2 separate regions of the Homo sapiens genome follow, and region 1 is reported to be linked to region 2. The links are microRNA targets in miRTarBase. Many come from high-throughput screens and were not tested one by one. Region 2 holds a microRNA gene; the other region holds the end of a gene's coding sequence.

The links. The annotated mature microRNA hsa-miR-4793-5p reads ACAUCCUGCUCCACAGGGCAGAGG and lies in region 2 at 4,709-4,732, opposite strand. An mRNA with a match to its seed (bases 2 to 7 or 8) in the 3' UTR can be bound and repressed. Matches are read on the target gene's strand: a 7mer-m8 pairs with bases 2 to 8, a 7mer-A1 pairs with bases 2 to 7 and ends in A, and an 8mer does both.
Region 1: miRTarBase lists KAT14 as a target of hsa-miR-4793-5p. Seed matches in the 3' UTR shown: 7mer-A1 at 1,208-1,214.

Annotation. Positions count from the first base shown.
Region 1 is chr20:18,186,600-18,193,719 of GRCh38, forward strand. It overlaps KAT14 (lysine acetyltransferase 14), which reads left to right. Exons shown (of 11, transcript NM_001392073.1): 11 at 687-1,436. The coding sequence ends at 860. Among named protein-coding and RNA genes, the nearest start is that of PET117, 52 kb to the left of the region's middle.
Region 2 is chr3:48,639,531-48,646,650 of GRCh38, forward strand. MIR4793 (microRNA 4793) reads right to left here and starts at 4,750; the gene lies at 4,664-4,750. CELSR3 (cadherin EGF LAG seven-pass G-type receptor 3) reads right to left here. Exons shown (of 35, transcript NM_001407.3): 22 at 6,560-6,727; 23 at 6,212-6,338; 24 at 5,913-6,119; 25 at 5,505-5,679; 26 at 5,186-5,298; 27 at 4,686-4,765; 28 at 4,024-4,147; 29 at 3,437-3,553; 30 at 3,206-3,354; 31 at 2,828-2,937; 32 at 2,321-2,479; 33 at 1,794-1,994; 34 at 144-1,029.

The DNA.
Region 1 (7,120 bases), not on the chromosome of region 2:
TTTTGGGACACCTTACTCTGTGTAGCTGATTAAAGAATCTAAGGACTTGCCTTGTGTTGATAGAATGATTGTTACTCTTTTCCCCTAAGATTAGGTCAAAGCTGAATGTAGAAATCTCAGTTCTAAGAAGCTAATTCTGTCAGTTTTAGAGAGACAGAAGGTGGACTTTGGGATTCAGAAGGTCTATACAAGGGCCTCAGGTTTTATAATTACATTCTTAATATTTCATGTTTGTGCATGTAATTTAGCAGGCCTAGTAAAGGAATTTTTACAGGTTTTGGGGAGGTACAAGATAACATCTAGTTTTAAAAAGCAAAACTTATTTTGTTTTGTATTTATTCAAGGTTATCATAGTGTTAGGTATTGAAATGTTTGACATATTTAAAGGTAATTGAGTTGTAAATAATAAAGCTGACAATAACAATATCCCCATTGACCCTTTGCTTCAAAGAAAAATAAAAAACACCCAGAATACTATCAGTTTCCTTGGTCTTGTGAATGTTTTGATCAGCAGCAAAATGTCATTCTGTTTCCAGCTGTTGCTAGGTGTTGCAATGTCTCAGCCTCAGTCTCTGATTTCTCCGGTTTCCATAACTAACTGCCTACACTTAAAAGCGTTTCTTTACCTACTCATTTTCCCTCAGGCCTTTCCATTTTTATCTTGTATTTTTCCACTCTTTTGGCAGACCTGCATGGGCAAGGACGTAACCCTTCACGTCTCAGCAAGCAACCCCGCTATGCTACTGTACCAGAAGTTTGGATTCAAGACTGAAGAATATGTATTAGATTTCTATGATAAATATTACCCATTGGAGAGTACAGAGTGTAAACACGCATTCTTTCTGAGGCTCCGGCGCTGATGCGAATACAGCTCACAGAGAAACGCATGTGCTATTGGAGAACAGGTCTTTGTGGAGATCTAAAGGCAGTGATTGATTTCACAGGGAGCTCTAATCTCTGTGATTACATGGTCCTTCAAACTCCCAACCAAAGTGAGAAAAGCGGCATGCAGTGAAATGAGCAGTGAGCAGCCCTTTAGCAAAATCGCCCTCCAGTCCTTCCTGGAGATGCCTTCAGCCAGCATCCCAGACTCCACAGTTATTTATGAATGATGTCGTGATTCTCCCTCCACCTGACAGTTTGTAAGAGTGAAAGAGCATCTAACCTGATGCTCTTGGAGAGAGATAACCTGTCTGTCATAACTTAAAGGATGAGAAAATGTGGTGTAGCTATTAAAGATTCATGCAGTCCCAAAAGGCACTGTCCTGGGATGATGAGAGATTATAAGGTGATTTCATAAAAGGAATCCAACCCTGTGCCCGGCCATTGATGTGTTGTCATTGAATCCAGGAGGATTTCTAGGGCACTGAAGTTTTGTTGTTTCTTTTGCTGACTTTGGTTACAGTCAGAAAAAATAAACTAGATGTTTGTGTCTACATGTTCTACCTGTTGTACCTATTAGCATCTTCCTGCAGGGACTTGGGCCCATGGCCTGGGAGGTTGGTTTGGGATTGGGGTTGTTGGGCAGCCTGCCATTCACCTGGCCTATCCTGGCCCTTCTCATGCCCAAGACAGTTGTTTCACAGGAGTGGAAGTGTGGGTGATGCAAGTAGAACCCTCTAGATGTACCCTGTGTGGTCTGCAGGACTGGACTGTTTGCTGTGTTTGTGGATGTTGGCGATAGACTGTCAATTAGGTTGTTTGTGATCCAACAAGAACATTTCCAAAAGTATCTAGGTGTTCTCAAATAAAAAGCTTTCTTTGCACAACCCATGGCCAGAGCGTCAATCTAGTCAGTTTGCTTTCAAACCCTCTTTAATTAAGATCAGTGGTTCTTAACTTTTTGGGACATGGATCACTTTGAGAATACAAAGAAAGCTGAATACTCTCTAGAAAACTGTCATGCACATTTAAAATTTTGCATCAGGGATCTGTCGACCACAAGTTAAGAACATCTGTTCTAGAAGCTGTACTTGCAGCCAGCTCGAATTCCTTTGTGAGAGAGAATGTGTTGAGCTCCCACATTAAGCCAATCTGGAAGCTGTTCAGTCATCTGGGGAAACAGTTGAGGCTCCATTTCATTTGTGAGAGGAACTGTAGCAGCACTGTCTTATCTATTTCTTTCCTTTTCTTTACCTCCTACCCTGCCTCCCAAGAGTTTTCTGCCTCTTTGGAAGGTTTTTGTTGACAGAATGGATTGTAACACCACGAAGTAAAATTGAGGAGACAACATTTCCACATCTGTAAACCAGCTTGTGATTGTTGTATGTGAATGTCAGGCATTTGTTGTTGCAAAGTGGGGGCTCAAATAATTGTCTCTGTAACTTCAGGGAGCTGAGGAAAGCTGTGATTGCTTTTACTGACTCTGTTTCACTTTTTTTTTTTAATTTTGAGAAATTTTAAAAACCCTTTTCATTTCTTTTTTCTTTTTTAAATTTTGAGACAGGGTCTCACTTTGTCGCCCAGGCTGCAGTGAAGTGGCACTGGCGCAATCTCAGCTCACTGCAACTTCCGCCTCCCAGGTTCAAGTGATTCTCCTGCCTCAGCCTCCTGAATAGCTGGGACCACAGGAACACGCGACCACACCTCGCTAATTTTTTGTGTTTTTGGTAGAGATGGGGTTTCACCGTGTTTTCCAGGCTGGTCTCGAACTCCTGAGCTCAAGTGATCTTGGCCTCCCAAATTGCTGGGATTATAGGCATGAGCCACCACACCCGGCCTTTGAGAAATTTTAATCACACACAAAGACAATGATGCCACAAACCCCATCACCCATATTCAACAATTGTTGAAATTCTATGTCATTTGCTTCATTTATCCTTTTTTTTTTTTGCTAAACTATCTGAAGGTAAATTCTAGATATCATATAATTTTACCACTTCTTACTCAAATAGGTATTTCTAAAAAATAAGGATATTTTCTTATATAATCTCAGTGTTCATTATCAGTCCTCTAACAAGATGAACATGTTTGGAATTATCTAGCAGTCAACCTGTAGTCACACCTTTTGAATTGTTTCAGAAATTCCTTTTACAGTTGGTTTGTTGGATCAGCGGCCAAGCAGGGTCCACATAAGTGACTTACTGTCCTGTCTCCACCGCCTGTTCATCCAGAGTGCCTCCGCCCTATTACTGCACTGCCACTGACAACATCAGTTGTCCCATGGCATGTCCCACATGTGGGTTGTCTGTTGCGTCCTTGTGGTGTCCTTCATGGGGCAGGACTGACTGGACAAGGTGAGGAGTGGACCTATGCTTGTCTCTTTAGCGGAGGGTGGGGACAGCTGACTCCCTGCCCCACTCCATTCCCTGCTTGGGTGTTGGGGCAGGGCCATTTCCCAGGGGTGGGCTTGATGGCCCCTGTGTGTGGGGCAGCTGTCGGTTTTGATCTGCCTTTCTCTCTGGCCCTTCTGAGCTAGCCCTGTAGTAAACCCTTAGCTAGTCCTCTAGAAGTGAATCTCCACAGTGCCAGGCTTGGGGCTGGGTTGCGGAAGAGCCATGTTTTGGTGGATTAAAGTCAAAATTTACTGTGAAGTTTCAGAATATCAAGTAAGGAGGAAGGCTTGTTTTTTCATGCCACAAAAGTGAGAATGAGTTCTGAATGAGTTCTGACAAGCTGAAGAGCTCTGCCTTCAGTTGTGTGTTCGTGAGAGAGTCTGGATTGTCCCCTTGGGAGGTGGCCTGGGGTAGCCAGGTGGGCCTTTGGGATCCCTAGGGGGTTGCAGTAATTCTGATTAATTATTGTCCATATTTACTCAGTCTTGTTCTAGGGAGGTTGAGCTCTATTTACAGCAGGATGGTTAAGAACCAGAAACATAATTTTAAATTTTCTAAAGGCAGTTAACATATTTTACATAAAGTTTTCATCACCTAAAAGCCACATTGCCTTGGGACCTTTTCCTGGAACTGTCTCCTGCAAGTGGCTTGGTGTATTCACTACAGCCCTGGGGAGAAGCATCCAGGTTGACCCCACAATGTGGGGTTGCATTACACAGTGTGGTTAAGCATATCCTCCAGGTATCTAACAGCAGGAAGTTGCAGTAAAAACATAATGTACCTCAGAACTGGGAATGGCCATGGGGTCATGAGACTCTTCATTAGTACATACCTAACTCACATACTTGTGAGTTTGTTAGTACATACTTGACTCTGAGAAATGTATTACAGTTATTTATGAGAAACAAGTTCACAGTCTTAGTGAATGTCATGCTTCAGCTTCCTCATCTGTAAAACAGGGTTGATGAGACCCACCTCACACATTTGTAGTGATAGGTACAACAAGGTCAAGAAAATCACAAATGGAGGACCCTGAATTCAAAGCCAGGCAGTCTGGTACCACAGCCTTCAGCCTTCACCGCTCTGGCTAAGCCTTGGGGAGGGGGCTGGGAGGTGTAGGGGGTAGTTTAGGGGGTCTGTGTGTGTCTGGCTCGGTACTGCCCCCAGTGCCTGGAGTGGTGCCCAGCACAGAGCCAGTACTCCACACATTGGATGAAGGAGGGAGAAAATGAGCTGTGTGTACCGGGAGTTCAATGTGATGAGAGACCTCAGTAATGCCTCTTGTTTTTTTCACTTTTTAAATATAGGCATGGAATCTTTCTGTTTATCAGAAATCATAAGTGTTTCTCATTGCACCCAGCCCCTTCTCTTTGCCTGGATAGGTAAAGGCAACTCTTAGCCTCTTAGAACCTTACAACATTATATACAGGTTACCCCATGCTAGAACAATCTCTACAAAAGTAACCAAAGACTGTAGTAAAATTTCAGTTTTATGAGCTAAAGGAAAAGACTGATGGCTGCTCAGGTTAAGAGGCTGGAAGGTGGACAGTTTGTGCTGTCACAGATGGAATGGCTCCAGGCAAGCCCACGTGTGTGAAGGGCAGCTCAGCCTTCCTCTGTAGCCTTGCTGCTCATATAAGGTGGAATTTTATTGCAGGTGACCTCAGAGCATAGGTCTGGAAGGCCACTGGCCCAAGCATGGAGACAAAGTCCACCTGGAAACTCAGAAGACCCAACATTCTATCCAGCAGAGCAGGTTCCAGGTGCATCACATGTGAATCCCCTCAGCCCTTGGGACAGCCAGAGCTCCTAGGAGTTTGTCCCCATTGGGTGCAGTCAGTAATGTGCTGATAAATGACCACAGACTGGGGGTGAGGTGGGGAGAGGGGGAGCAGTAAACCAAGCCCCTGATGTGTAGTGTTTGCTGATTTTCATGGTGAAATACTGTTACTATGGCAAATTTTCTTTTTCTTTTTTCTTTTTTTTTTTTGAAACAGAGTTTCCCTCTTGTCACCCAGGGTGGAGTGCAATGGCACAATCTCGGCTCACTGCAACCTCCGCCTCCTGGGTTCAAGTGATTCTCCTGCCTCAGCCTCCCAAGTAGCTGGGATTACAGGCGTGTAATCCCACCACGACCACCACGCCCAGCTAATTTTTGTATTTTTTTTTTTTTTTTTTTTTGAGACAGAGTCTCGCACTGCCGCCCAGGCTGGAGTGCAGTGGCGCAGTCTTGGTTCACTGCAAGCTCCACTTCCCAGGTTCATGCCATTCCCCTGCCTCAACCTCCTGAGTAGCTGGGACTACAGGCGCCCGCCCCATTCCCGGCTAATTTTTTGTATTTTTAGTAGAGACGGGGTTTCACCGTGTTAGCCAGGATGGCCTTGATCTCCTGACCTCATGATCCACCCGCCTCGGCCTCCCAAAGTGCTGGGATTACAGATGTGAGCCACCGCGCCCGGCCTAATTTTTGTATTTTTAGTAGAGATGGGATTTCACCATGTTGGCCAGACTGGTCTGGATCTCCCGAACTCAGGTGATCCACCCACCTTGGCCTTCCCAAGTGCTGGGATTACAGGCGTGAGCTACCACACCCAGCTCTATGGCCAATTTTCAAGCTACCAATGTGATGTCACTAAACCCAGAGGTAGAACGATGTGTACAGTAGCCACCATTATATTGTATTTCTGTCACGCAGAAACAATAGATGGAAGTTACCTCAGAAGCACAGGTAATAGTAACAAGCAGTCATGACAATTATCTAATTGTCATGTAGTAAGCTGTTTTGTTTGTTTGTATCTTATAGAGATAGGGTGGGTCTTGCTATGTTGGCCAGGGTGGTCTTGAACTCCTGGCCTCAAGCAATACTCCCACCTCAGCCTTACAAAGTGCTAGGATTACAGGCATGAGCCACTACACCTGGCTGACATTTAGTACGTTTTGAATATTGATTTTAAATATGATTGATTTAATTAATGTATATAATTTAACTTTTAATAATGACTTTGGAAATCTAACCAGCAGCTCCTGCATGCAGCCACCTCAGGGCTGGGCACAATGGGGTCTGATAGCTTGCCTGGTGGTCCCACAAGCAGCAGACTTGAGCAGCTCCTGGAGCTCACCACGTGCGGCCCACAGTGTGAGCCTGGGCAAGGACAGAGCTGCCTCCCGAGGAGTTCCTGTGCTGCCAGTAGCAGCTGGTGGAGGCGGACTAGGAAGGTCAGGGAGGCTTTCTGGAGGCCCTGGGAGGCCCAGGTTGCAGCCTCACACACATTGGATTGTCTGTGGCTTTTGTAGCTTCCAAGCTGGCTGCAGGGAGACCACTCTACTGAACACATTCTATGGCTTAAAGTAGTGGTCCCCAACCTTTTTGGCACCAGAGACCAGTTTTGTGGAAGACAATTTTTCCATGGACTGGGGTTGAGGGGGGAATGGTTTCAGGATGATTCAAGCACATTACATTTATTGTGCACTTTATTTCTATTATTATTACATTGAAATATCTAATGAAATAATTATAAAAGTCACCATAATGTAGAATCAGTGGGAGCCCTAAGCTTGTTGTTTTGCAGCTAGGTGGTCCCATCTTGGGGTGATGGGAGACAGTGACAGATCATAGGGCATTAAATTCTCATAAGGAGTGCACAACCTAGATCCCTTAAATATGCAGTCCACAATAGGGTTCACATTCCTGTGAGAATCTAATGCCACTGCTGATCTGACTGGAGGTGGAGCTCAGGTGATAATGCGAGTGATGGGGAGCGGCTATAAATACAGATGAAGCTTTGCTCACTTGCCCTCTGCTCACCTCCTGCTGTGCAGCCCCGTTCCTAACAGGCCACAGACCA
Region 2 (7,120 bases):
GGCCCTCTGGCTGTGCTGAGCCTGGGGTAGCCCACACCTGTCTGCCAGCCCTCATCCCCTTCTGTGGCAGAACACAGGGCAGGGCACACAGGAGGTTGCCCTAAGCTGATGAGGGTGCAAGCAGGTGGCTGGACCATACTTACTCTGAGTCTGGCGACAGCTCCGAGATGCTGTGAGACGTGGCAGAACGTGGCGTGGAGGGCCCAAGCACAGAGGCTGTGGCAGAAGGTGTGGCAGTGGTGTGAGGGCCCAAGGGTGTGCTTGAAGATTGCACAGAGGAGAGGGCCGAGGAGTTGAAAGAGGCAAGGATGGAGGAAAGAATGTCCAACTGTTCTGTGGAGGGGCCATGGCTGGGGCCACTGACCGAGTCCTCCCTAGCTCTGAGCAGCTGCGGGAGTGGCCCAAGGGCTTCTCGTGAGGGGTGCCGGCTAGGCACCTGGTCCAGCTGCTCCCGAGAGTTCGAGCTCCTAGACAGAGAGTCCAGCGGCCGGGATGGCAAGAGGGGGTCCCTTGAGAGTTGCCGCTGGGGAGACAGGGGCAGAGGTGGGGGCTGTGGGTCAAGGTCCCGGGTGCGGCGGGGCGGAGGCAGCGTGCTCAACCACTCTCGAGGTGCCCCTAAGTCGAGCGCATCCCGTGACCCGAAGCGGCCAGCCATGGCGCCAGGGTAGTCCCGAGGTGGCTGCCTCCGTGGCAGGGTGCTGCCCCGATCTTTGGGCTCCAGTCGGCCTGGTGCAGCATCCATGCATTCCTGGGACCCTGGCCGGCTCAGGGGACGTAGAACAGGGGCAGGGGCTTCCTCTAGTCGCTCACGGCTCAGTTGCCGCCGGAGGAGCAGGTCCAGCTGTTCTCTAGAAGAGTAGCGGCTGGCTGGCTGTGAAAGGCTGCCCGTGCCCCCGCCAGCATAGATGCGACCGTAAGAGGCAGCTGGCACAGCACGGTGGCCCAAGGTGGCTGCACGGCACCAGGACAGCTCAGGGGCACCTCGGGTCTGTGGCACCAGTGGGTATTGCAACCGGTTCTTCAGGATGCCTGTGAGAGGAAGAAAATGGGGGGCAGGGTTTGTGTGGGAGGGGGAGGGCAGGCAGGAATTGCTGAGTCTAGGGGTGTGGCAGCCCTTGGGATCCTTCCAACACAGGGATGGGAGCAGGAACCCCTTGGGGAGCAGCAGAGGCAACCCTGGTGGTCCCAGAGAGGCAGCAGGACAGGGGTCAGAGTGGAAGGGCAGTCATCTTCCAGTTGTGGTCCCGGGGCAGGGGGAGGGCGGGCAGGTCTCATGGTGCAGGGGATGGGGCAAACTCCCTGAGGTCAGAAGAGGGGCAGCCCTCAGGTCCTGACAATGCAGGCCTGGCTGAAATGCAGGAACCCCCCGGGTTGGACAGGAGCAGTCCCCAGGTCCCTGTGATGCAAGGGTGAGGGCAGAAACCTCTTCTCCGGGTCCCCATAAAAGCAGAGTAGGGGGCAGAAATCTTCCAGATCAGAGCACGGGCTCTGGGATCTGGGTGGGGGGCAGGGGGAAGCAGCTCCTAGGGTCTCTGAAAAACAGATGGGCTGGGGCAGGAGTGGTCGCCTGTGGTCCCCCTGTGGTGCTGGCCAGGGTAGAGGGGGACAGAGAATTCCCAGGTCAGGACAGGAGCAGTCCCTGAGGACCGTGAAGCAGGCTAGAGAAGCAGAAGCGCCCTAGGTCAGAGTAAGAAGAGCTCTCAGTTTGGGATGAGGAAGCTGCAATCCCTTGGCTCAGGGCATGAGCAGCCCCCAGCGTGTCTGCGGTGTGGGCCAGGGCTCAGGGACTGTACCTTTCCTCTGGCGCTGGGCCCGGCCCAGAGAAGTCTCATCCCCACTGGTCAGGGCCGGGTCTGGCTGGTTGTTGTTAGCTGCATCCTTGCTGGTGTCCAGCCCCAGGCGCCTTTCAGAGCCCCAAGTCTGCAGAGCACAGGGGGCTGCCTCGCACTCCCCCAGGGCTGGCCAGTAGGACAGGAGGTCATTGCCATCCACATCTGTGGAGCCAGGTCAGGTTACAGGAGCTTCTGGGTTGATCCCAGTGACTCATGACCCCTGACCCTAATGACCCTTGAAACCCTGGCTGTTCTCATTGAGCAGAGGTGGGAACAGGAGGGTATCTCCTCAGAGATCAATGGGTGGGGGTGACTGGTGAGCTCCCTCCCCTTAACTGGAGGTGGACAGAGACTAAAAGTTGGGGAACCTGATGACTGAGGGGTCAGAAAGACCAGGATGAACCCCAACCGCAGGAAAGATGGGGAGCTGGAGGGATAACAAATGGGGCATCCCTTGGTCACCCAAGGGGTCAGAGGGCGCCTGGCACCTTTGGGGTGGGTGAGGAGCCTCTCACTCTGGGCTGCTCGGCAGAGTGGCCGTTGGAAGCGCCCCCGCGTCCGGCCATTGTCCTCGCTTTCTGAAGATGGAATGGAGAGACTCCTCTCCTCCTCCAAGGACAGGTCACTGTCAGAGTCGGAGTCTGCGCCTGGAGTTGGGAAAGTCAGAAGTACTTTCAGAGGTAAGGGACTTGGAGATAAGGGAATTTGGAGTTGAGGGTCTAGAGGTGGGTACGGCAAGGGGGTTAGGGTTGGGGACAGGAACCGGGGCTTGAAGTGGAGGTAGCAGCAGAAGGGCTGGGACTTATCAGAGGGAAGGACGAATCAGGAGTGGACTGGGAGAACCAGGGCTGGAGAGGTAGGTGCCTCCTGAGGCAGGGACCCTGGGGGAGATCGTCCCACCCCAGTCAGCCACTGCTCCCAGTATGGGGTAGAAGAAAAGGGGATGGGGAGAGATCCTCTGCCTCCCTCCTCCCTGCCCCAGGCCCCAACTCCACCAGCATCTCGATGGAACATGGCCACGTCCAGGTCAGTGGGGCCAGCATGAGCCTGGAGGCTGTGGTCAGTGTGGTCAGCGGCTGAGCCATGTCGAACCAGGACATTGTCCCTGGAAAAGCAGGAGCCCCCCCACCATGAAAGAGGGATGTGATGGGGTGCCTTGGAGGCTGGAGTGTCTTTGAGTGCACAGCCAGCTGCGGGTGGAATGGCATCCCTGGGTGTGTGTGGTGGGAAGCATTTAGGGCAGAGGCAGAAGCAGGGCCCCAGATGGCCAAGATGGGTGGAGCCACCCGCCCTAGGACCTGGTCAGCCAAGCCCTGGTAAGGTGGGGCTGGACTAAGCTGAGTGTTCCCTCACAAGGAGGCTCTTCCTCTCACCTGAGGTAGCTGCGGCCCCGCTGGCTGTCCTGGTCCTGGGTCCGGCCGGAGCGGGCACTGCTCACAGAGGAGACGGTGGAGGCGCCCAGAGTGATGCGGATGAGGCCACTCTCCTCAAAGAGAGCCGTGTTGTTGTAGGCCCCAGGTCCCTGGGGGTGGTAGGGACAGAGTGTGAGCTAACCCTGAAGCAGCCTAAAACTCTGGCTTCTCAGGGCCCCCATCCCGACTCACCAGCCCAGGTGCTGGCCTTGCCTCCTCAGGCGCTGCCTTCCTGCCCAGACAGGCTGGCATCCAGGCAGCCCGAGCATCTGCATTTAGGACACAGAAGAGCAGCAGCACCGCCAGGCCCTGTGGGTCAGCGAGGGTCAAAGCAGAGTCGGCAGGGATCAATCAGGGACCAGTATAAGTCACTGTGGGTCAGCAATGGGGTCAGTCACTGTAGGCTAGTGTGGGTCAGTGAGGAGCCCATGCGGGACTCAGTAAGGGAGTTGGGGAAGGTCAGCAGGGGAGAGGATGGAGCAGCAGGAGTGGCTGGAGTCTGTAAGGTCGGTGTGGATCAGCAAGGGGTCGGGAGCCTTGGTGTTGGTGAAGGTCGATCCAAGATCAGCACTCAGTCTGGGATCAGTGCCTAAGTTAGAGTCAGCTCCAGGCCTGGGGGCAGCAGCTAGGGCCAGTGTCTGGTCTGGGGTAGTACCCAGCCTGGCAAAGTTATCCAGTAAGAGTCAGCTCCAGGCCTAGGGTCAACGTCTGCCTAGGGATGGCCCCAGCCTACTGAAGGCCCACCTGGTTCTGGGGCAAGGGAGGGGCACCAGAGTCACCTGGAGGCCGCAGAGTCCAGCATGGAGGTAGTGGAAGGCTAGGATGCTGTGGTTGACTGCCAGGAGCCCAAAGAGCCAGGAGGCACTGACCAGCAGAAGCAGCAGGAAGGAGCTGCGAAGGGTCCTGCTGTGGGGACATGGGAAGACACAGGAGGACATGCAAGGCTCATGTAGGACTCATGCAGGGAACACGGGAGGACACACAGGGGCCACACACGAAACGTGAAAAAAAGGAACTCACACGGGAACATGGAGGTCTCTGGAGGACACTGGGGGAGATGGGAGGTCCCACAAAGAAACAGGAGAGCAGTCAAAGAGCCATGAGGACACGTGGGGAAAACACAGGGGTATGGGAGCCACAAGGGAGGGCACGGAAGACAGGTGGGAACACACAGGGCAGGGGGCAAAGTGAGCCACCCAGGCCATGGGAGACTCTGGGGGGACCCAGAGGACAAGGAGAGACAGCAGGGCAGAAGCACATGTGGGGCTACAGTATAGCGAGGGCGCCAGAGAGGGACCACAGGTCAGGGCAGGTGTGACTTCATTCCTTCATCTAGAACTTGGAGCCCAACCTGCACCAGGGAAGATCTGGGGGCCCCAGACCCCACCCAGGAGGGACCTGCCATCCTGAGAAGCCCCCTTCCTCCAGCCAGCCAACTCACAGTGCAGAGGTCTTCTTGGCCTCCCTCTGCCCTGTGGAGCAGGATGTGCGGGCAGCGAGGAGAAACATGGTCCCGTTCATCTGGACCCACGGCCAGACATGTGGGGCCGGGCAGGGCAGAGAGAGAGAGAGAGAGAGAGGCAATGAGAGACAGAGAGAGACTAAGATTCACGGAGAGAGGCAGAACCAGTGAGAAATTCACACATATACACACACACCAAAGGAGCTTAGCATCACAGAAAAAGAAATTGGGAACCAGAGAGGGACTGAGAGAGAGAAGCAGAGACAGAGGCAGGGACAGGCAACTGAATCTCTGACCCCGCGCCCCCATCTCCATGCCAGTTGAATGGGGGTGGCTACTGACCAGAGGACAGAAAAAATGAAGGCCGAGCCCAGGAAGCCTGCAGAATGCCACCTGACCGCCCTCAGCTGAGTCCACTGCACCTCCTCCCCCAATGAGGGAGGGAAGTACAGAGGGGGCACCAAGTCCAGGGCACTCACCACTATGACCAGGACAACAGGGCCAGCAAAGCTCCAGATGAGGGGCTCGTGGACTGAGATCCAGCAGAAGTCAGGGTTCCCATAGCCCTCAGGGTCCAGGCCCACAGCAAGGCCTTGGGAAGAGAAAGGGTAGGACTGAGGGTGTGTGTTCCAGAGCTGCTGACCAGCCCATGTATGGGAGAAAGCATGGGTGAGGGCAGAGCAGCAACCCCATGAATAGATGGCTTGGGGTTTGAGGTTGGGGGTCATGAGCAGGAGTGGGGACAGGGTCAGGGGTCAGGCCATGTGATGGTTGGAGGTTGGGGGTCACAGCCCTCACCCAGCAGCACAGCAGGGACGCCCCAGCCCAGGGCATGGTAGAAGCGCATGGCGCCGCGGTCCACGTTGCGTGGCTCAACCTGCATGCGGTAGAGGTGCAGCCCCTGCACGAAGAGCCACGCGAAGGTGCTGAGGAAGAAGTAGTGCAGGAGGATGGCGACTGCAGTGCACACCAGCTGAGGGCAGGGGGGCGTGTCAGGACCTCTCCTGCCTCACCCACCTCTGACCCCTACCCCAGGCATCTGCTTCCCACCTCTCACCCCTAAACCACAATATCTTACCCCAGCATCCTGCTGAAAACCCTGGCCCCAACCTGAGCATCCCTGACCTCTGACCCTGAGTTTTGGCCCCAGGCCTCCTGGGCCAGTAGGGTCATCAGGACACAAGTTCCCTGGCCCTGATCCTGCACCTGATTGTGGGTCCTGTGAATCCCCAGCAGGAAGAGGAGCTCTGCCACCCCCAGGGCGGCTGCCACATTGGCATGGATCCCACGCACATTGGACTTGAGGCTGCGCAGGCTCAGCAGGATGGCTGCAGTCAGCACCAGCGCAGCCACAGACACAGCCACGACCACGTGGGTGAACACAGCCAGCAGCTCCAGGTCGCCCTCCAGCCTCTACAGAGACAGGGATGGTTGATGGGTTGTTGGGCAGAATCCCCGTGTCCCTTTGACCCCCCACTTCCTTGGGACACTGAACACAGCCCCACCTCACGGGGAGAGGCATCCATGAGGACCCCAAAGGTCCCTGTCCGGCTGCAGCGACACCGTGCGTGGGACCCATTCCTGTGCACCAGCTCGCAGTCCCGTGCTGTCCACACACCATGCTGCTCCGCCCTGCAGCCACAGGGCAGTTAGACACAACTGTGACCCAGTGTCAGGCAGGGGTTTGTGAGAGATCATGGGAAGGGCTGAGGGTGCCTGGAGTTGGGGTACAGCATTCCTCATGGTCCGGGTTGCACAACAGCACTAGTGGGGGCCCCAGGGGAAGGCTGGGACTATTAGTTGGCCTCCCAAGGGCTAACGGGACCAAGGGTTTCCAGAATGGGGGTCCTCACAGGCCAGGTGGGTCCCACTGCACACAGATCGCCTTGCTCCGATTCGCTGTCTGTAGCAGGCGAAACTCTAGGCTGATGGGGGACTCCAGGATTCCCCTTAGGAAGTTGCGTCCGTGGAACACAGCCACGCTGACCACCGGGGAGTTCATGACGGGGTTCTGAGGAAGCCTGGGGAGACACCCATCTGGGCTTACGCACTGCTGACCTCCCCATGCTCAGCCTGCTTGCCTCACCCCGTCTTCATGCCACTCGCCAGGGCTGACCCAGGGTCTGGGATGTCCCCAGAGTGGAAGCTGTTTCTAAGAATCCCTCCAGCTTCTGCTGGGCTGCTGAGGGGCTGAGCAGCTCCAGGGGACCTGCAACTGTTTGCCTCTGATTGCCCTCCCTCCTACCCCCATCAGTCAGCCTGTCCTTGTCTGTCTCTGTCAGCCCTTTGGTCTGTCTGTACCTGGCTCATGGATCCCTCCTGTGTGTGGCTCTGTGTCTGTCAGCCTGTGGCTCTGTCACTCTGCACAACTCCAGAGAATAAGATTCACACAGAACCCGGCAAGGATGGGGCTC